Linked DNA regions of Homo sapiens: region 2 is linked to region 1. Evidence: fine-mapped expression QTL. A gene starts in region 1. The other region holds a variant in brackets. All regions are shown on one strand. Distances are from middle to middle. Region 1 holds the start of DTX2 (deltex E3 ubiquitin ligase 2). Region 2 overlaps ZP3 (zona pellucida glycoprotein 3).

The links. PIP is the estimated chance that this variant, and not a neighbour inherited with it, causes the effect.
Region 2: its variant is fine-mapped to the expression of DTX2 in monocytes after LPS (Quach 2016, PIP 0.95).

Annotation. Positions count from the first base shown.
Region 1 is chr7:76,455,852-76,466,354 of GRCh38, forward strand. DTX2 (deltex E3 ubiquitin ligase 2) reads left to right here and starts at 5,858. Exons shown (of 11, transcript NM_001102594.3): 1 at 5,858-5,985; 2 at 7,694-7,858. RefSeq lists an enhancer at 357-1,230.
Region 2 is chr7:76,427,672-76,438,174 of GRCh38, forward strand. ZP3 (zona pellucida glycoprotein 3) reads left to right here. Exons shown (of 8, transcript NM_001110354.2): 2 at 1,844-1,962; 3 at 5,256-5,359; 4 at 5,799-5,976; 5 at 6,367-6,484. Among named protein-coding and RNA genes, the nearest start is that of ZP3, 8.0 kb to the left of the region's middle. The variant C/G (reference allele first, on the strand shown) is at 5,656.

The DNA of each region.
Region 1 (10,503 bases):
CATCTCTATTAAAAATACAAAAAAAAAAAATTAGCCGGACGTGGTGGCGGGCGCCTGTAATCCCAGCTACTCAGTAGGCTGAGGCAGGAGAATCACTTAAATCTAGGAGGCAGAGGTTGCAGTGAGCCAAGATCATGCCACTGCACTCCAGCCTTGGCGACACAGAGAGACTCTGTCTCAAAAAAAAAAAAAAAAAAAAGATGGCTTTACAGCCCTGAGGAGTAAACCAGTCTTCCCCAAATAATTATCTTATGTAAGTCCCAGCCCCTTGGAACATGTTTTGAAAGGGCTCACCCATCTGGGCAGGTGACTCACGCCTGTAATCCCTGCACTTTGGGAGGCTGAGGCAGGCGGATCACCTGAGGTCAGAAGTTCAAGACCAGCCTGGCCAACATGGCGAAACCCATCTCTACTAAAAATACAAAAATTAGCCAGGCATGGTGGGACACGCCTGTAGTCTCAGCTACTTGGGAGGCTGAGGCAGGAGAATCACTTGAATATGGGAGGTGGAAGTTGCAGTGAGCCGGGATCATACCATTGCACTCTAGCTTGGGCAAGAAGAGCGAAACCCCATCTCAAAAACAAAAGAAAAGGCTCACCCTTTTCACTGGTTCCCTTGTGGCAAATCTAAAATAAGGTACGTGTGCTCGCCGTTCATTCATCTGAAAAGTTTGCAAATACCCTCTACCCCATACCCCACCCCCACGTGTTGTCCTTTTTTTTTTTTTTTTTTATTTGAGACAGAGTCTCACCAGGCTGGAGTGCAGTGGTGCAATCTCGGCTCACTACAAGCTCTGCCTCCCGGGTTCGCGCCATTCTCCTGCCTCAGCCTCCCAAGTAGCTGGGACTACAGGCGCCCGCCACCATGCCCGGCTAATTTTATTTTATTTTATTTTTGTATTTTTAGTAGAGACGGGGTTTCTCCATGTTAGCCAGGATGGTCTTGATCTCCTGACCTTGTGATCCGCCCGCCTCGGCCTCCCAAAGTGCTAGGATTACAGGCATGAGACACCGCACCCGGCCCTTTTTTTTTTTAAGAGACAAGATGTCACCCTGTCACCCAGGCTGGAATGCAGTGGTGTCGTCATAGCTCACTGCAGCCTGGACCCCCTGGGCTCAAGTGATCCTCCTGCCTCAGTCTCCCAAGTAGCTGGGACCACAGGGGTGTCCCACCACACCCAGCTAATTTTTTTATTTTTTGTAGAGATGGGGTCTTGTCTTGTCACCCAAGCTGGTCTTAAACTTCTGAGCTCAAGCGATCCTCCCACTTGGACCTAGCCAGGTGCTGGGATTATGGGTATTAGAGTTTAAATTTCTTTGCTCAACACCACTCCCCATTTTGTGGCCAACAGTCACATTCTTTCTTGGGCCACGTCATTCATTTTCAGTTGCTTCAGAGCACTGGTGGCCCCTTGGGTGTGTTGAACAAACCCCAGCCTTTGAGGAGTTCAAAAAAAAAAAAAAAAAAAAAGACACCATCTCTAGGCGGAAAATTTCAGACAAAGAACCCCTGCCAGGAATATTTCCTGCCGCTGCTCCTGCCACTGCCCCTTAGGCTGTGGACCTTTATGCAAGAACGCAAGTGGCAAACTGCCCTACTGTGTATGTTGTGGGGAGTGGGGGTACTGCCAGAGAAGAGAGAGCCCTATTTTATTTTATTTTATTTTATTTTAAAGACAGAGTCTCACTCTGTTGCCCAGGCTGGAGTGCAATGGCACGATCTCGGCTCACTGCAACCTCTGCCCCCTGGGTTCAAGAGATTCTCCTCCCTCAGCCTCCCCAGTAGCTGGGATTACAGGCGCATGCCACCACGCCTGGCTAATTTTTGTATTTTTAGTGGAGACGGGGTTTCCCCATGTTGGCCAAACTCCTGACCTTATGTGATCCTCCCACCTTGGCCTCCCAAAGTGCTGGGATTAGAGGCATGAGCCACTGTGCCCAGCTGACAGCCCTCTCTAAATCTTTAAAAATTCAGTCAGGCGTGGTGGCTCATGGCTGTAATCTCAGCACTTTAGGAGGCTGAGGCAAGAGGAATGTGTGAGCCCAGGAGTTTGAGACCAACTTGGGCAATATGGTGAGACCCTATCTTGACAGAAAATACAAAAATCAGCCTGGCATGGTGGTGCACGCTTGTAGTCCCAGCTACTCAGGAGGCTGAGGCAGGAAGATCACTTGAACCCAGGAGGTCGAGGCTGCAGTGAGCTATGATCACGCCACTGTACTCCAGCCTGGGAGACACTGTCTCAAAAAATAAATAAATAAAATCTTTAACAATTCTTCAGCTTATCCGCCTACCTTCTGGGGCTTCTTGGGTCTCTTCCCAGAAACTTTCTTCGTCTGTAAGCCCGTTTATTGTATGCAATTGTTTAAAAAACACAAATGGGTGCATATTCTCATATTCTCTACCCTCTATTTTGAACGTTCCTTTTTTTTCTTTTTTTCAGACCGAGTCTCAGTCTGTCACCCAGGCTAGTGCAATGGTGCAATTTTGGCTCACTACACCCTCTGCCTCCCAGATTCAAGCGATTCTCCTGCCTCAGCCTCCCGAGTAGGTGGATTACAGGTGTGCACCGCTGCACCCAGCTAATTTTTGTATTTTTAGTAGAGACGAGGTTTCACCATGTTGGCCAGACTGGTCTTGAACTCCTGATCTCAGGTGATCCACCTGCCTCCGCCTCCCAAAGTGCTGGGATTATAGGCATGAGCCGCCTTGCCTGGCTCAAAGTTCCTTTTTGGTTTAACAATAGATCTAGGCCACTGTGAGTCTTCCTCATTCCTTCTAGGGCTACCTAGTGTTCCGGGGTTATTTAACCAGCCCCCTCCTACCAGGCAGTTCTTTTGTCTCTGGCCCTTTGCTACGTATATTAGTTTAAAGTTCACTTTGCAAGTGGCCAAGCCTGTTTCCCTCATTTCCAGGTTCCCAGGGGGCAGACATCCTGCTGCAATTTCAGAAGTCAGCACACTCTTCTCTCTCCTGTCTAAAATACAAAAGTCCATGCCCCCCACTCTCCCTCTTGATACTGTCCTATTTTACTTCTTTTCACAACCAGAACTCTTTATTTTTCCCAAATAAAAATAGTCCGTCTTTTCAGATTTTAAAAATGGAACTCTGGCCGGATGCGGTGGCCCTCACCTGTAATCCCAGCACTTTGGAAGGCTGCAGTGGGCAGATTACCTGAGGTCAGGAGTTTGAGATCAGCCTGGCTGACATGGTGAAACTCTGTCTCTACTAAAAATACAAAAATTAGCCCGGATGCGGTGGCTCACATCTGTAATCCCAGTACTTTGGGAGACCGAGGTGGGCAGATCACGAGGTCAGGAGTTCAAGACCAGCCTGGCCAACATGGTGAAACCCTGTCTCTACTAAAATACAAAAATTAGCTGGGCATGGTGGCATCCGCCTGTAATCACAGTTACTCGGCAGGCTGAGGAAGAATTGCTTGAACCTGGGAGGCGGAGTTTGCAGTGAGCTGAGATTGTGCCATTGCACTCCAGCCTGGGCGACAGAGCAAGACTCCGTCTCAAAAATATATATATATACAAAAATTAGCTGAGTGTGGTGGTGCATGCCTGTAATCCCAGCTACTCGGGAGGTGAGGCAGGAGAATCACTTGAACCTGGGAGGCGGAGGTTGCAGTGAGCCGAGATTGTGCCATTTCACTCCAGCCTGGACAACAAGAGCAAAACTCGTCTCAAAAAAAAAAAAAAGGAAAATAAAAATCCCTGATAAAGGATCAATGACCTTAGGATAATGTCATTCCAGGTAAGTATCTTTAACTGGGTACTTGGTCCTCCAAGATTCAGAGGACCTTGATCCCCCTGAAACTGTATACATAATATTCAACATACATAGTATGTGCACACATGTGCAAACACTCACATTATCTAAAATTCATCATAATCTTACCCCGGCTTCTCCCCACACTCCTCAGATCCTGCTATAGCCTAGTGCATTTTCTCCTTCCTCACTCCCTTCCCTCCATGTGTCCTCTGCCCTGGCCACCAGGAACTTTGTGCTGCCTCCGGAGTGCATGAGGCACTTTCACATCTCTCTTGCTTTACAAGAGCTTCCCTATGCTCCAACTGGCAAATTTCTCTATGGACTGAAAAACCCACATAGCCTTTATCTGTCTTGTGATGTCTTCTCCCCACCCTCAAGTTAGGCATACCCTTCTATGCCCTCCTTTATCCAAACATTTTCCCCACTATATCGTAATTGTGTGTTTAAGTGCCGGACTTTCCAACTAGATACAAAGCTTTCCCAGGAAAGAAATCCTTTTCTTTTCTTCTTTCTTTCTTTTCTTTTCTTTTCTTTCTTTTTTTTTTTTTTTTTTTTGAGACAGATTCCCACTGTGTCGTCCAGGCTGGAGTGCAGTGGCACAATCTTGGCTCAGTGCAACCTCCACCTCCAGGGTTCAAGTGATTCTCTTGCCTCAGTCTTCCAAGTAGCTGGGATTACAGGCACGCGCCACCACACCCAGTTAATTATTATTATTATTATTATTTTTTTTTTTTTTTGAGACGGAGTCTCGCTCTGTCACCCAGGCTGGAGTGCAGTGGCACAATCTCGGCTCACTGCAAGCTCCGCCTCCCGGGTTCACGCCATTCTCCTGCCTCAGCCTCCCGAGTAGCTGGGACTACAGGAGCCCACCACTACGCCCGCTTAATTTTTTTTTTTTTTTGTATTTTTAGTAGAGACGGGGTTTCACCGTGGTCTCGATCTCCTGCCCTCGTGATCCGCCCGCCTCGGCCTCCCAGAGTGCTGGGATTACAGGCGTGAGCCACTGCGCCCGGCCTCCACACCCAGTTAATTTTTGTATTTTTAGTAGAGACGGGGTTTCACCATGTTGGCCAGGATGGTCTCAATCTCTTGACCTTGTGATCTGGCTGCCTCGGCCTCCCAAAGTGCTGGGATTACAGGCGTGAGCCACCGCTCCCGGCGAGAAACCTTTTCTTTTTCTTTTTTCTTCTTCTTCGTCTTTTTTTTTTTTTCTTTTGAGAGGGATTCCTGTTCCGTCGCCCAGGCTGGAGTGCAATGGCGCGATCTTGGCTCACTACAGCCTCTGCCTCCCGGGTTCAAGCGATTCTCTTGCCTCAGCCTCCCGAGTAGCTGGGATTACAGGCACGAGCCACCACGCCCGGCTAGTTTTTTTTGGTATTTTTAGTAGAGACGGGGTTTCGCCATGATGGCCAGGCTGGTCTGGAACTCCCGACCTCAGGTGATCCGCCCACCTCTGCCTCTCAAAGTGCAGGGATTACAGGCATGAGCCACTGCGCCCAGCCAAGAAACCATTTCTGATTCACCTATTCACTCCCGCACTCCCACTACACAGTAGCTAAATAAATAAATAAATATTAAAAATAAATAGGAAAGAAAGAGAGAAAAAAAGAAAAGAAAAAGACAAAAATTTAAATTTAAAAAGGTTGTGCTCGATGGCTCACACTTGCAACCCCAGTGCTTTGGGAGGCTGAATGAAGCAAGAGGATCGCTTGAGGCCAGGAGTTTGAGATCGGCCTGAGCAACGTTGCAGCATTGCAAAACCCCCATCTGTACAAAAAAGAAAAATAAAATTAATTTTAAAAACAAAAAAAGAGAAACAGTAGCACATGTATGTACTGGCACCATGTATGTACTAGTAAAAACTAGTTAAAATTAAGTCAGTAATTAATGAAGGAATAAGTCAATGAGTGAGCAGGCGAAGGAAGAAAACATAGACCGGAGCAGGTGCGCCTTGGGTTGAGCCCTTCCCCGCTGAGCCCCGCCTTCTGCCCGCCCCTGGGCCCTACCGGGACTACATTTCCCAGAAGGCCGCACGCCCCGGGCATGCGCAGCGGCTCGCTCGGAAGCTGCGACGCCGAGTTTCACTCTGGCTGCCTTCTCCTGAGAGTCGGAGCCACAGCCAGAGCCCTGCCCAGGCCGAGCCGGAGCTGCAGCCCGAGCGCGGTGGTGCCCTCAGCCCCGTCCTCTTGTCCTCCTCAGCCTCGGTGAGAGGGCGGGAAGGCCACCTGCGCGTCGCTAGGGCTGCGGTCCCAGGGGCGCGGGGTGGCGCGGGGAGCCGGAGCCTAGCTGGGACCGGAAGGGGGCGGGCGTGGGTGTGAGGGGGACCGACGGCCGGGGCGGCGGGGACACCCGGGGGTCCCGGGAGATCGGGGGTGTCGGGGGGATCGGTCTCCGGGATCAAGGTCCTGAGGGCGAGAGTTGGGGGACTTGGGAGGCGCCGGCAGCTTTGGACGGGACAGGGTGCCGGGTGCGAAAGGGGACGTTCGGATGAAGGCTGAGGGGCTCGCAGGCGGAGGGGCGCGGTTCCGGGTCGCTCGGAAGGCGCGCACCCCTTCCCAAAGTACCCAGAGGAGGGGGTGACGAGATTGCCACCGGCTCCCTGACGAGGGGTTGGTCCTGCTGGGGTCTACCCCCAGGTGAAGGGACTCACTGGGCCGGGGGTTGTACTTTGGAGGAGTTTGCTTCCTAACTCTGCTTCCCTGCTTTCCTGTGGGGGGTCTTCCCAGGAGTTCCTGGGGCCCTGGGTCACTTTTTGGGGTGCGTAAGGGGTGCCGAAAAAGATTTAGAACTCGGTTCCCTTTTCTGGAGCTGCGCTTTCATCGCGACTGTCTCAGCCAGCTGCCCTCCTCCTCCAAGCTGGCTCCACTTCTCTAAGCGCCAACAGCGATGGAAATAAATAGCATGTGTACAGACGCCTGGACCCTTGAGAAACTCAGAATATTTCTGCATGCCTTCCTAGCTCCTCTAGCGCTCTAGAAGGTAGACTTTCTGGTAGCCACCATCCGGGCTTAAGCCATCCGGATAGCAAGCCCTCTGATTCGGTTGCTCTGTGACCTTAAATATTTACCCTCTCTGGTGTGTTGATTTCCTGGATGCTTAGCTGCCAGACTGGCTTATGAAGTCCTTTTAGAGTTTTCTGTAAAAGGGCTCAGGCCAGGCACGGTGGCTCATGCCTGTAATCCCAGCCCTTTGGGAGGCCGAGGTGGAAGGATCATTTGAGTCCAGGAATTTGAGACAAGCCTGGGAAACGAAGAGGATTCCTGAGATCACTGTCTCTATAAAAAATCAGATGGGCGTGTTGGTGGGTGCCTGTAGTCCCAGCTACTTGGGAGGCTGAGGCAGGAGGATCGCTTGAGCCCAGGAGTTGGAGGCTGCAGTGAGCTGTGATCACACCACTGCACTGCAGCATGGGCGACAGAGGGAGACCCCGTCTCAAAAAACAAAAAACAAACAAACTAAAAAAACGAACTTTTTTTTTTTTTTAAGAAAAGGGCTCAGAGCCAGGCGTGGTGACTCGAGCCTATAATCCCAGCTACTCGGGAAGCTGAGGCAGGAGAGTAGCTTGAACCTGGGAGGCGGAGGCTGCAGTGAGCCGAGATCACGCCACTGCACTCCAGCTTGGGTGACAGAGCAAGACTCCGTCTCCAAAAACTAATAATAATAAAAAATTTTAAAAAGAGCTCAGGGTTTTTTTGTTTGTTTGCTTTTTGTTGTTTCTTCAACCATCTCCTTGATTGTTAAGTGGGTGGAGGAAGACTGTTGTACCTCCTGCTCCACCCAGGCTATTGGAAAATAAATCTGGTGATTTTCAGTCCCCAGGCACAGCACACGGATCCAACATCTGTACCTTTGTTTTTACTAACTGCTGTTTCTTAATTTAAAACCTGATCATCTTCTTCCTCGTTGGCAAAGGTGCCTTGGAATTTGTGTCGCTGAGTCAGCAAGCCTTTCAGATTTGCCCGGTTTTTGTTGTTTGTGGTTTGTATCAAGATGGGAACTCAAACAAGTCATTCCTCCTAAGGAGCTGGTGTCTTCATCCAGAAGGGACAGTTTGTGCCAGCTCTCCAGAGAGAAAAGGTGAGAGCCATGGGGACTTGACCTTGCTGCCTTCTCTATCTGGTGCAGAGAAGGTGGGGATTGGGGAGGGTGGAATTTGAGGTCTGCAGGATAAACGTGTGCCCTGGGAGTTGACTGTTGATTGCCACCTGTCTCAAATAAATTGCAGTGGCGTCTTGCCACTGCTTCTCCTGTTTAACTAACTAGTCTTAGAAGATGCTTTCCACTTTAAGACATGCTTTATGGGATAGAAGACACAAGTCACGATTTCTGCATTTGAAGTGGCAGTTTTCATTTCTTTTGTTGCATAAACCCTTACTGGGTGCCAGATAAGATCTCTGTCTTTTGGGAGTGCATTGTTTGGTGGAAAAGACAAAGCAGAGTCAGTGACAAGGTGTTGTCAGTGTGATATATACTGAGCTGGGAGAAATCACAAGGCTCTCCTACCCACATCCAGAAAGGGGACGGTTAGAGGGAAGGTCAGGAAGGCTCCTGGAAGGTGGTAGTTGAGGGGGGTTGTGAAGGAGGAGTAGGACTTAGAAAGTGGGGCACAGTCACCTGGGAGAGGAGTCAGCGTTTGCAAAGTCATGAAGCTACCGGGACACAGCTGGGCTACTGTAAGTAGCTTAGTATGTAATAGAGGAGGCTGGAAAAGCAGGCAGAGGGCTCTGAGCGAGGAGGGTTATGTGGGCCATGCCAAGACTCGGGAGTGGAAGGATTTTAGGAGATTTCTATGAGGGTCATTTTATTAATTATTTTTTTGAGTTGGGGTCTGCTTCTGCTGCCCAGGCTGGAGTGCAGTGGAGTGATCATAGTTCACCACAGCCTCAAATTCCTGGGCTCTGGGGTAGCTGAGGTGCCTACCACCATACCCGACTAATAATTTTATCTAGAGACAGTGCCGCTCTACGTTGTCCAGGCTGGTCTCTAACTCCTGGCCTCAAGGGATCCTCCCATCTCAGCCTCCCAAAGTGCTAGGATTACAGGCCTGAGCCACCGTGCCTGGCCTCGTGAGGGACATTTTAATGGAGCACACTGGAACATGTGGAATGGGTTTAGACTGGATTATTCGCTTTGTGGCGGTCTTCTTACATACATCATGCCAGCTTCTTCGTGGGGAGAGGCAGGTGAGTGGTTTTGCCCTCAGTTGCTTATAGTCTAGTTGAAGAGATAAAGTGAACATAGAGAACTGAAAAGGAACTTGCTAAGAGGGTGTTTTCTTTCATTCTTTTTGTTGTTGTTGTTTTGTTTTGTTTGTTTACTTTTTGAGACAGGGTCTTACTCTGTCACCCAGGCTGGAGAGCGGTGGTGCAATCTCAGCTCACTGCTCAACTTCACCTCCCAGGCTCAAGAGGTTCTTGTGCCTCAGCTTCCCGAGTAGCTGGACTTACAGGTGCACACCATCATGCCTGGCTGATTTAGAGGGTGTTTGCTTTCTGCTGGGCACATCCAGGCATCGTGGGAAGTGCTGTTTAAATTGGGCCATAAAAGGGTGGGTAAGGTGAGGACAGGGGACCAAGTGGGTGGGATTCAGGGTGAAGCAGAGTCATGGGGGTGGGGACAGACACGCTGATGCACATGGGAGTAGTGGATCCTCATTTACACTCTGGAAGGGAATTGTGGAGAGGGAGGTATAGATGAGGGGATGGAAGGGAAGGGCACCGGCAAATATTGTTGATAGCGAGGGAAGGGCGGTATTGTGATCGGCTTTGACTGTCAGCCTAAGGAATTTGAATTTCATTCTAGAGATCCAGGGGAGGTGTGTAAAAGACAAGATCAGAACGTTAGTTCAGGAAGCTTAATCTTTTCTGCCCCCCCATCTGAGATGTACAAGAGGGTTAGAAAGCAGAGTTGGAGAAGCTGTTTGGGAGGGAGCACTTATTTGTTTTTTTGTTTTGTTTTGTTTTTTTGAGATGGAGTCTCGCTCTGTTACCCAGGCTGGAGTGCAGTGGCGCCATCCTGGCTCACTGCAACCTCCACCTCCCGGGTTCAAGTGATTCTCCTGCCTCAGCTTCCCAAGTAGCTAGGACTACAAGCACCTGCCACCATGCCTGGCTAATTTTTGTATTTTTAGTAGAGACGGGGTTTCCCTCTGTTGGCCAGGCTGGTGTCGAACTCCTGACCTCAGGTGATGCACCCACCGAGGCCTCCCAAAGTGCTGGGATTACAGGCGTGAGCCACTGCGCCCGGCAGGGAGGGGGTAAAGTGAGAGGCATAAGGGTCCCGGCCAGGTGTTAGCAGGGGGCTTCAGAGGTGAGGAGAGAGCAGGGCAGGCAGCTGCTAGGCCTGGGGGAGCGGGCTGCGGAGGACTGAGAATCTGAGGTTTTTCTCTTGGCCGCCTGGGGGAAATCCAGGGGGAAAAGGAGAATGAGGAAGGAAGATGCGTTTGGCCTCAGACGTGTTGAAGGTATTAAGAGGCCAACAGGAAATGAGGCCATGGGCTAGAGAGAAGAGCCCTGATTCATTCCCCAAATGCCTCCCGAAATTCTGTGCGCCGAGGCTTGTGTTTGGCACTTGGAGTACAAAGATGAATTCAGCAGTCTCTTTGGTGTTTGCCTTATCAGCTAAGCTGAGAACAAGATTGATTAGTACACACTCCTCAGTGTTCATGCCTGACCTACTTTTCCTTATTTAGTAAGTTATTTTTAATAAATGTAGTAAGCTCT
Region 2 (10,503 bases), 28 kb before region 1:
TGCTGGGGCACTTGCTAATAAGGTCTAGGACTATTCCCTGAAGATCGAGTTTGGTCAGGGCCAGGCAGCCACCTGAGCTCTTGGGCAACTTCGACCTCCTAGGCTCAAGCCATCCTCCTGCCTCAGCCTCCTGAATAGCTGGGATGGACTACAGGCACATGCCACCGTGCCCAGCCAAGTTATGTTTTTGTAGAGATGGGGTCTAGCTCTATTGCCCAGGCTGGTCGTGACTTCCTGGCCTCAAGCAATCCTCTTCCCTCCCAAAGTGCTGGGATTACAGGCATGAGCCACTGCACCCAGCCCTCAAGTAGTTTTTAAATAAGCTCCCTGAGATGAGAGGTGGGGATAGTGAGCTTAGAATAGGTGGTTGGGGGTTGAGTCATGGTGGCTCACACCTGTAATCCAGCACTTTGGGAGGCTGAGGCAGGTGGATCACCTGAGGCCAGGAGTTCGAGACCAGCCTGGCTAACATGGCGAAACCCTGTCTCTATTTAAAAAAAAAAAAAAAAGGCACGGTGGCACGTGCCTGTAATTCCAGCTACTCAGAGGCTGAAGCAGAGAATTGCTTGAACCTGGGAGGCGGAGGTTGCAGTGAGCCGAGTTCGTGCCACTGCACTCCAGCCTGGGTGACAGAGCAAGACTGCATCTCAAAAAAACAAAAGGTGGTTAGGAAGTGACTAAAGTAGGGGTTTCCAGTGCTGGCTCTATGCTAATCACCTGGAAAGGTTGTAAAAATACTGATTCTCAAGAGAATCTCATACCTTCACTCTACTGGGGTAGGGCCTAGCGTCACATTTTTCTAATATTCTAGCAAAATCTTCGAACTTAGGTGTTTGCTATAAAACTCTCTCCCAGGCAGGCCCTGCCTTCTGCAGCCCTATTGGACGATGCAAATTTCCCCAGTAGTACTCACCTGTGCTCTTCCTGCCTCAGGCAACCTCTGAATCAGTCTCCCCCACCTTATGTGAAATGGGCTTGAATAGGTTAGAAGCTGATGTGGGTTGTTGTGTTTTTTGTTTGTTTTTGTTTTTGAGAGTTTTGCTCTTGTTGCCCAGGCTAGAATGCAATGGCACGATCTCCGCTCACTGCAACCTCTGCCTCCCGGGTTCAAGCGATTCTTCTGCCTCAGTCTCCCGAGTAGCTGGGATTACAGGCACGTGCCACCACACTCAGCTAATTTTTTTTTTTTAAGTAGAGATGGGGTTTCACCATGTTGGTCAGGCTGGTCTCAAACTCCTGACCTCAGATGATCTGCCCTCCTCAGCCTCCCAAAGTGCTGGGATTACGGGCGTGAGCCACAGCGCCCAGCCAGAAGCTGATAAGTGTTAACAGCTGGGCACTTCCTGACTGCTTCCTGGCGGCTATCTTGGCCCTGGGCCTCTCCTGAAAGAGGAAACTGTATGTACTGGGGGGCATGGAGGGGGAGTGTCAGAAGGGATGTGTCATGTGCCCTGATGCCTCTATTGCTTGGGTGTTACATGGTATCTGCCATGTGGTTGATCCAGTCTGCCTGTGGTGGTGTCAATATGTGGTGTCAGGTAAAGATTCCGAGGTACAAAGACAGTACCTGTCCTGCCTCTTTCCTGACCAGTGGCAGAGCCTGTGTTCTCTTTTGTAGAGATGGGGTCTTGCTATGTTTCCCAGGCCAGTCTCAAACTCCTGGCCTCAAGCAATCCTTGGCCTCCCAAAGTGCTGGGGTTACAGGCATGAGTCACTGCACCTGGCCTTGACCCTGTGGTCTTTCTGTCCCCTTGTGGGCTGCCCTCCCTGAGCACTCAGGTATGGCTTGGGAGTACCCGGGCAGGTGATGGCCGGCAGCATTAACTTCTCACCTTTCCTCCAGGTAACTGACGATGCCCTGGTGTACAGCACCTTCCTGCTCCATGACCCCCGCCCCGTGGGAAACCTGTCCATCGTGAGGACTAACCGCGCAGAGATTCCCATCGAGTGCCGCTACCCCAGGTCGGTGTGGGACTGACTCATGGCCCCTGGTGCAAAAGCCCCTTGGGTGTGGCTGCAGGCAAGTGGGCTGGCTATGGGCTACAGCTTGCAGCATGGCTATTAGAACTACCTACCGAAGCATTTGCAGCTGTGGTTACTGTACTGCGTGGGATTGTGGGGCCTGCTGAGTCTAGTTCGAGCCCCAGAAGAGTATCAGGAGCCCAACTGCAGCTTAGCGGAAGCTTCAGAGCTGCTCAGCCCTGGTGGTGGTACTATGCCAGCCTCGGCCCTTAGGGTTCAGAAATGGCCTTCCAATAGTGCTAGGCTGGGGCCAGGTGCAGTGGCTCATCCTGTAATCCTAGCACTTTGGGAGGCTGACAGGTGGATCGCTTGAGGTCAAGGAGTTCAAGACCAGTCTGGCCTACATGGTGAAACCCCATCTCTACTAAAAACACAGAAATTAGCCGGGTGTCTATAATCCCAGCTACTTGGGAGGCTGAGGCAGGAGAATTGCTTGAACCCAGGAGGCAGAGGCTGCAGTGAGCCGAGATTGCACTGCTGTACTCCATTCTGGGCAACAAAGCGATACTCCATCGCAAAAAATAATAATAAAATAGTGCTAGGCTGCGTTCTAGAATCTGACCTGGGCGGTGGTGGCCTACTCTTCTGTGGTCCTCAAGCCCCTGGCATCAAGCACGTGCCTGTGAACTCAGGCCCTGAAGTGGGAGGAGAAACTATGGCTCCCAAGGACAACACTGGGTCCTGTGCTGGCCTCAGCATGGGGTGCAGGGGACTTTGTCCCTGCCCTTGAACCAGTCTGGGAGTGGGTATAAGATGATGCGGCCAGGTATGGTGGCTCACGCCTGTAATACCAGCCCTTTGGGAGGCCAAGGTGGGCAGCTCACGAGGTAAGGAGTTCAGGACCAGCCTGGCCAACATGGTGAAACCCATCTCTACTAAAAACACAAAAAAATTAGCCGAGTGTGGTAGCGCGTGCCTGTAATCTCAGCTACTCAGGAGGCTGAGGCAGGAGAATCATTTGAACCCAGGATGCAGAGGTTGCAGTGAGCTGAGATGGCACCATTGCACTCCAGCCTGGGCAACAGAGCAAGACTCCATCTCAAAAAGAAAATGCTAGTGTGAAGTGGGTAGGGAGCTGATACCAGTCAGGACATCATGAGGGATGAGCCATGCCCCTGGGAGGGGTCATGGTAGGGGTTATCCTAGAACAGGATCCTGGAGTGGGGGACCTTGAGGCTGAGATGGCCTGGGCAGAGCCATGTGGCCACACACCCAACGGGAGGGTAGTGTGCCCTTAGTAGGTGACATGCAGCCTGGGGGCTGGAGCCCAGGGACTGGGGTAATGAGGGAGCCAGACAGATGGGCTCACCAGCCTCACCACAGGTGCCCCTCCTGGAATGGGTGAGGACTGAATCTCCACCCAGGGTCACCTGGTGGCTGGTGCTGAAGACAAATGGGAACTAGTGAGAACCAGCTGGGAGGCTGGAAAACTGGGATTCAATGAGGCCTGACCCATGGTTGCAGGGACCGTAGAGGCTGACTCGCAGGAGCTAAGAGCAGTTGGAGGAGCTTGGTGCCTATGTGGGTAGGGGAGATGGAGGAGGATAGAGGAGTCAAGGGCAGGCTGCCCAGTCGGCATGAGGGACTGAAGCTGTCCTGTGACCGTGGAAGTCTGACTTCAGTCTCTGGGCCTGACCCCTGAGGATGGTGGCTCACCTGGTCCATTGGCTGTAGGTAGTATTAGAGAGGCTGGTTGTAGGCTGGGATGCTTTAACCTGGCTCCAGATACCTGAGTCTGGTTATCAATAGATGCATCCATCACTTGGAGTAGCTTCTTCCAGCAGATCCTATGGGGTTAGCAGGGTAGGTATCTGCAGATACCCAGACCTGCTTCCATGGACTTCCCAGTCACTGGTGTGGGTCCAGGCTCTCGGTAGCATCTCAAGACCTAAGGGCCTGTCTTTGATCTCTAAAGGATGGCCTTGGCTGGGCATGGTGGCTCACGCCTATAATCCCAGCACTTTGGGAGGCCGAGGCGGGCGGATCATGAGGTCAGGAGATGGAGACCATCCTGGCTAACGTGGTGAAACCCCGTCTCTACTAAAAATACAAAAAATTAGCCAGGCCTAGTGGCGGGTGCCTGTAGTCCCAGCTATTTGGGAGGCTGAGGCAGGAGAATGGCGTGAACCTGGGTGGTGGAGCTTGCAGTGAGCCGAGATCGTGCCACTGTACTCCAGCCTGGGAGACAAAGTGAGACTCCGTCTCAAAAAAAAAAAAAAAAGATGGCCTTAGCTGATTCCCCTCTCAAGCATCCTGTGGAGTACTGTGCAGGGCCTGCTATCAGACCCCAAACCTGAACCTCTAGGGCTAAAGTATGTGTGGTGGCTTTTGGTTTTTTGTTTAAAAAAAAAAAGTCTTACTCTGCCGCCCAGGCTGGAGTGCAGTGGGGTGCCATCATAGTTCACTGCAGCCTTGACCTCCTGGGCTCAAGCAATCCTCCCATCTCAGCCTCCTGAGTAGCTGGTATGTACTACTATGCCCAGCTATCTTTTCTTTTCTTTTCTTTTTTTTTTGAGATGGAGTCTTGCTCTGTTGCCCAGGCTGGAGTGCAGTGGTGTGATCTCAGCTCACTGCAAACTCCACCTCCGAGGTTCACGCCATTCTCCTGCCTCAGCCTCCCAAGTAGCTGGGACTAAAGGCGCCCGCCACCATGCCCGGATAATTTTATTTTTAGTGGAGATGGGGTTTCACCATGTTAGCCAGGATGGTCTCGATCTCCTGACCTCATGATCCGCCCGCCTCGGCCTCTCAAACTGCTGGGATTATAGGCTTGAGCCACCGTGCCTGGCCTCTTTTCTTTTTTATAGAGATAGAGTCTTGCTATGTTGTCCAGGCTGCTCTCAAACTCCTAGCCTCAGGCAATCCTCCAGTCTCCACCTCCCAAAGTGCTGGGATTACAGGCATGAGCCACCGCACTCAGGTCCAGGGCTCAAGAGGGAGCAGATCTCAGTCTAGAAACCAAACTCCTAGGTTCAGCTGTATCTGTCTTCAGCGGCCCAGATAGCATCATAGCATCAGTTAGGATGGCTAGGCCACTCACAGGTGCAGAAGTTCAGGAGGGTGCAGGGGCAGCCTCAGGCTCAAGGTGTCTGTTCAGCCATCTCGCACCAGCTACCTGGCTGGGCCATAGCTGAGGACCCTGTAGTGGGGTAGCAGTGAGATACTCCCCATCAGTGGGGGCCCAGGTGGGTGTGACCTGAGGCAGGTGTGCACAGCTGCTGTTCTTCTCTCAGGCAGGGCAATGTGAGCAGCCAGGCCATCCTGCCCACCTGGTTGCCCTTCAGGACCACGGTGTTCTCAGAGGAGAAGCTGACTTTCTCTCTGCGTCTGATGGAGGGTAAGAGAAGAAGGCTGGGTGGGACATCTGTGGAAAGACCTGGGCCATCTCAGACCCCTGCCCTTGGCTGTGTCTTTTTTTTGTTTGTTTGGTTTTGGTTTTGGTTGGTTTTGGTTGGTTTTGGTTGGTTTTGGTTGGTTTTTGAGACAGTCTTGATCTGACCTCCAGGCTGGAGTGCAGTGGCACGATCTCAGCTCACTGCAGTCTCCACCTCCTGGGGTTCAAACGATTCTCCTGCCTCAGCCTCCCGAGTAACTGGGACTACAGGCTTCTGACACCACACCCAGCTAACTTTT[C/G]TATTTTTAGTAGAGATGGGGTTTTGCCACGTTGGCTAGGCTGGTCTCGAACTCCTGACCTCAGGTGATCCACCTGCCTCAGCCTCCCAAGGTGCTGGGATTACAGGCATGAGCCACCATGCCCAGCTGACTGTGTCTTTCAGAGAACTGGAACGCTGAGAAGAGGTCCCCCACCTTCCACCTGGGAGATGCAGCCCACCTCCAGGCAGAAATCCACACTGGCAGCCACGTGCCACTGCGGTTGTTTGTGGACCACTGCGTGGCCACACCGACACCAGACCAGAATGCCTCCCCTTATCACACCATCGTGGACTTCCATGGGTGAGCACTGGGCTCCCTGCCTAGAGAACCTTCCTAGCAAAATGACCCTAAAGCCACCTGTTTGGCTTTTTGAGACAGTGTCACTCTGTAACCCAGGCTGGAATACAGAGGCTTGATCTCTGCCCTCTGCAACCTCTGCCTCCCAGGTTTAAGTGATTCTCCTGCCTCAGCCCCCCAAGTAGCTGAGATTACAGGTGCCCATCACCATGCCTGGCTAATTTTTGTATTTTTAGTAGAGACAAGGTTTCACCATGTTTGCCAGGCTAGTCTCGAACTCCTGACCTCAAGTGATCCACCCACCTTGGCCTCCCAAAGTGCTGGGATTATGGGCGTGAGCCACGGTGCCCGGCCCACCTGTCTGGCTTTAATACCGTTCTGTTTTCTTCCAAGCTGTCTTGTCGACGGTCTCACTGATGCCTCTTCTGCATTCAAAGTTCCTCGACCCGGGCCAGATACACTCCAGTTCACAGTGGATGTCTTCCACTTTGCTAATGACTCCAGAAACATGGTAAGAGCTTTAACAGCCTGAAAGAAGGCTGAACTTGCAACCTTCATATCCTACTGAATGGGGTCACTCACTAGCTCCACCCCTAAGCAAATGACTTAGAGCTGTGTCCCAGTAACTCAAACTTACAAGTAAAGCCATGAGCTTTAGCGAGGCCTTCAAGCAGAAGGATGAACAATATGAAGCCTTAAGAGGTAGAGGCCGGGCACGGTGGCTCATGCTTGTAATCCCAATACTTTGGGAGGCCGAGGGGGGTGGATCACTTGAGGTCAGGAGTTCAAGACCAGCCTGGCCAACATAGTAAAACCCCGACTCTACTAAATATACAAAAAAAATTAGCTGAGTGTGGTGGTTGGGTACCTGTAATCCCAGCTACCTGGGAGGCTGAAGCAGGAGAATAGCTTGAACCTGGGAGGCAGAGGTTGCAGTGAGCAGAGATTGTGCCACTGCACCTCCAGCCTGAGTGACAGTGAGACTCCATCTCCAAAAAAAAAAAAAAAGGCAGGTGTTAGCCTTCCTGGAGGCTTTCTGCAGGGGCAAAGAAAACCAGTGTGAACTTCGTAGCCAGGGTGGCTTCTTGAACTTGGTCATAGGTTAGGCTAGTGATTCTGAAGGCATCATCCTCAGCTGGAGGGCTTGTTGAAATTGATGACTGGGCCCCAACCCAGGGTTTGATTCAGGTGGTCTAGTGAAGCCTAGAATCTGCATTCTTAAGTGTTGGTTCTGCCAGTCTGGGTCCTCCCCTTGAGAACCTAAACTAGAAAACTCAAATTGACACTAAGAGGGAAGGAGAAGGAAGGAATGAAGATGGGAACTGCCTAATGGCTGAGGTGGGGGAGGGATGCAGTAGGAAGTGCAGGTGCAAGGACCAACATCTAGCCGGGAAGTACTGGTAAGTGGTTAGAAGTAAATTGCCTGGTGCGGTGGCTCGTGCCCATAATCCCAGCACTTTGGGAGGCTGAGGCGGGCAGATCACGAGGTCAGGAGATTGAGACCATCCTGGTTAACACGGTGAAACCCCCTCTACTAAAAATACAAAAAATTAGCTGGGCATGATGGTGGGCACCTGTAGTCCCAGCCACTCCAGGTTCCCAGGTGCAAGTGATTCTCCTGCCTCAGTCTCCCAAGTAGCTGGGAGTACAGGTACCCGCCACCATGCCTGGCTAATTTTTTTGTATTTCTAGTAGAGACAAGGTTTTACCATGTTGTCCAGGCTGGTCCCAAACTCCTGACCTCAGGTGATCCGCCTGCCTCGGTCTCCCAAAGTGCTGGAATTACAGGCGTGAGCCACCATGCCCAGCCTCAAGTAGCTTTTAAACAAGCTCACTGAGATGAGAGGTGAGGCGGTGAGCTTAGAATAGGTGGTTAGGAAGTGATTAAAGTAGGGGTTTCCAGTGCTGGCTCTATACTAATCATCTGGAGAGGTTGTAAAAATACTGATTGTAGAGAGTCTCATACCTTCACTCTATTGGGGTAGGGCATGGTGTCACATTTTGTAACATTAACTAAATCTTCATAGGTGTTTGCTGTAAAACTCCATGAACTTCAGTGTGCACACCATCTAGGTTCTACCACCAGCATTTTTTTTTTTTTTTTGAGACAGTCTCACTCTGTCACCCAAGCTGGAATGCAATGGTGCGGTCTTGGCTCACTGCAACCTCTGCCTCCGGGTGCAAGCAATTCTGCCTCAGCCTCCTGAGTAGCTGGGATTGTAGGCGCCTGCCACCATGCCCGGCTAATCCTTGTATTTCTTAGTAGAGACAGGGATTCATCATTTTGGCCAGGCTGGTCTTGAACTCTTGACCTCATTATCCAACCGCCTCAGCTTCCCAAAGTGCTGGGATTATAGGCATGAACCACCACGCGCCCCCCGCCCCCTTTTTTTTTTTTTTTTTTTTTTTTTTTTTTTTTTTTTTTTTTTTTGAGAGGGTCTCTGTCACCCAGGCTGGAGTACAGTGGCCCAATCTTAGGTCACTGCAACTTCCACCTCCCAGGCTCAAGCGATTCTCCTGCCTTAGCCTCCCAAGTAGCTGAGATTGTAGGCATACGCCACTACTGAGTGCCTGTTATATTTTTAGTAGAGATGGTTTCACCATATTGGCCAGGCTGGTCTTGAATACCCGACCTCAAACGATCCACCTGCCTTGGCCTCCCAAAGTGCTGGGATTACAGGCGTGAGCCACTGTACCCGGCCTGCTAGCATTTTACTGTTATCCTCCATCTACTGACCTACCTTATTCTACTTGGAAATGCATCAAAAGCCACTTAAGCTCCTAGGTGACTCTAATACGCAGCCAGGCTTGCAAACCTCTGAAGCAGAGGCTCATACGTCAGGGTGGCATTAAGGGACAAAGTAGAAACTTTTCAAAGATGACATCGATGCCACTTCACCTCCTCCAGCAGCTGCCTTGTGGGAAGAGAAAGATCAACACACAGATCAGTAGGGTAGCAAAAGGGAAAAGCATCTAATATTGATGAGATGGCCTGAAGCTCTCAGTGGTGGGCCCTGCTTCAGTGGGGCTGGGGATAAAGGAGGGCAGATTTGGGAAAAGAGTCCTGGCCCTCGGATCAGTGACCGATAGCTCCTTAGGGGAGAGGATCCTGGTTGTGGGAGGAAGTCAAGATTGACCTCAGGTGTGGCCATTTGGGAAGAAGATGGAGAGAAGTTTTCACAGAGGTGGTAGCGGTCAGCATGGGTATGGACTGAGGTGGTTTCTCAATCTCTGGGGGTTGAGGGGTAACTAAGACCAGAGAACAGTGCTGTTTAATGGAAGATAGTCTGAGCCCTTGGAGGGCCCCCCTTCAAAGGTAGGATTGATGATGCCTCAGTAGACTATGTCCCATGGCACAAAGAAGGAACAACCCTATTTCAGAGCAATAGGGTGGCTGGGCACGGTGGTTCACATCTGTAATCCCAGCACCTTGGGAGGCCGAGGTGGGAGGATCAGAGTTCAGGTGTTTAAGGCTGCAGTGAGCTATGATGGTGCTATTGCCCTCAACAGAGCAAGACCCTGTGTACTTTTTTTTTTTTTTTTTTTTTTTGGACAGAGTCTCGCTCTGTCACCCAGGCTGGAATGCAATGGCATGATCTCGGTTCACTGCAACCTCCACCTCCTTATTCAAGCCATTCTCCTGCCTCAGCCTCCCTAATAGTTGGAATTATAGGCACTCAATCACCACGCCTGGCTAATTTTTGAATATTTAGTAGAGATGGGGTTTCACTATGTTGGTCAGGCTGGTCTTAAACTCCTGACCTCAGGTGATCCACCTGCCTCAGCAAGTGCTGGGATTACAGGCATGAGCTATCACACTCCCCTCTTTTTTTTTTTTTTTTTGTTTTTTTTTGGGGGGAAATGGAGTGTCACTCTTGTTGCCCAGGCTAGAGTGCAATGGCGTAATCTCAGCTCACTGCAACTTCCCATCTCCCAGGTTCAAGCAATTCTTCCATTCCAGCCTCCCAAGTAGCTGGGATTATAGGCACCTGCCACCATGCCCAGCTAATTTCTGTATTTTTTTTTTTTTTTTTAGTAGAGATGGGGTTTCACCATGTTGGCCAGGCTGGTCTCAAACTCCTGACCTCAGGTGATCCACTGACCTCAGCCTCCCAAAGTGCTGGGATTACAGGCATGAGCCACCACGCCCAGCCTAGACCCTGCTTCTAAAAGGCCGCTATAGGGGAACTGCCCTGGGATCTTAGACTCCAGTTAGCACCAGAAAAACATACTAGGAAAAAGCTAAGGATGAAAGTACATTTCCTTTGTGGAATAGACAACAGGGCCTTGGAAGCTTCTTACTTGCAGGGCAGGTGGCTAAGATGGGCAGCTGGACAACTGCTAAACTGGCTTGTTTCTAAAAGTCTGAATTTACATGGTTTCAAGTTTCTCTGCTGGTGTACTTGGCCACTAGGTGGTGACTGAGGCTTGTGGCTCTGAGGCTTCTGCTGGAAGGTGGCAGAATTGCCATGCTCTGCCCGAGGTTGAGCAGGGAGGAATTTTAGCCCTGCCTGAAATATGAAGGGAAAC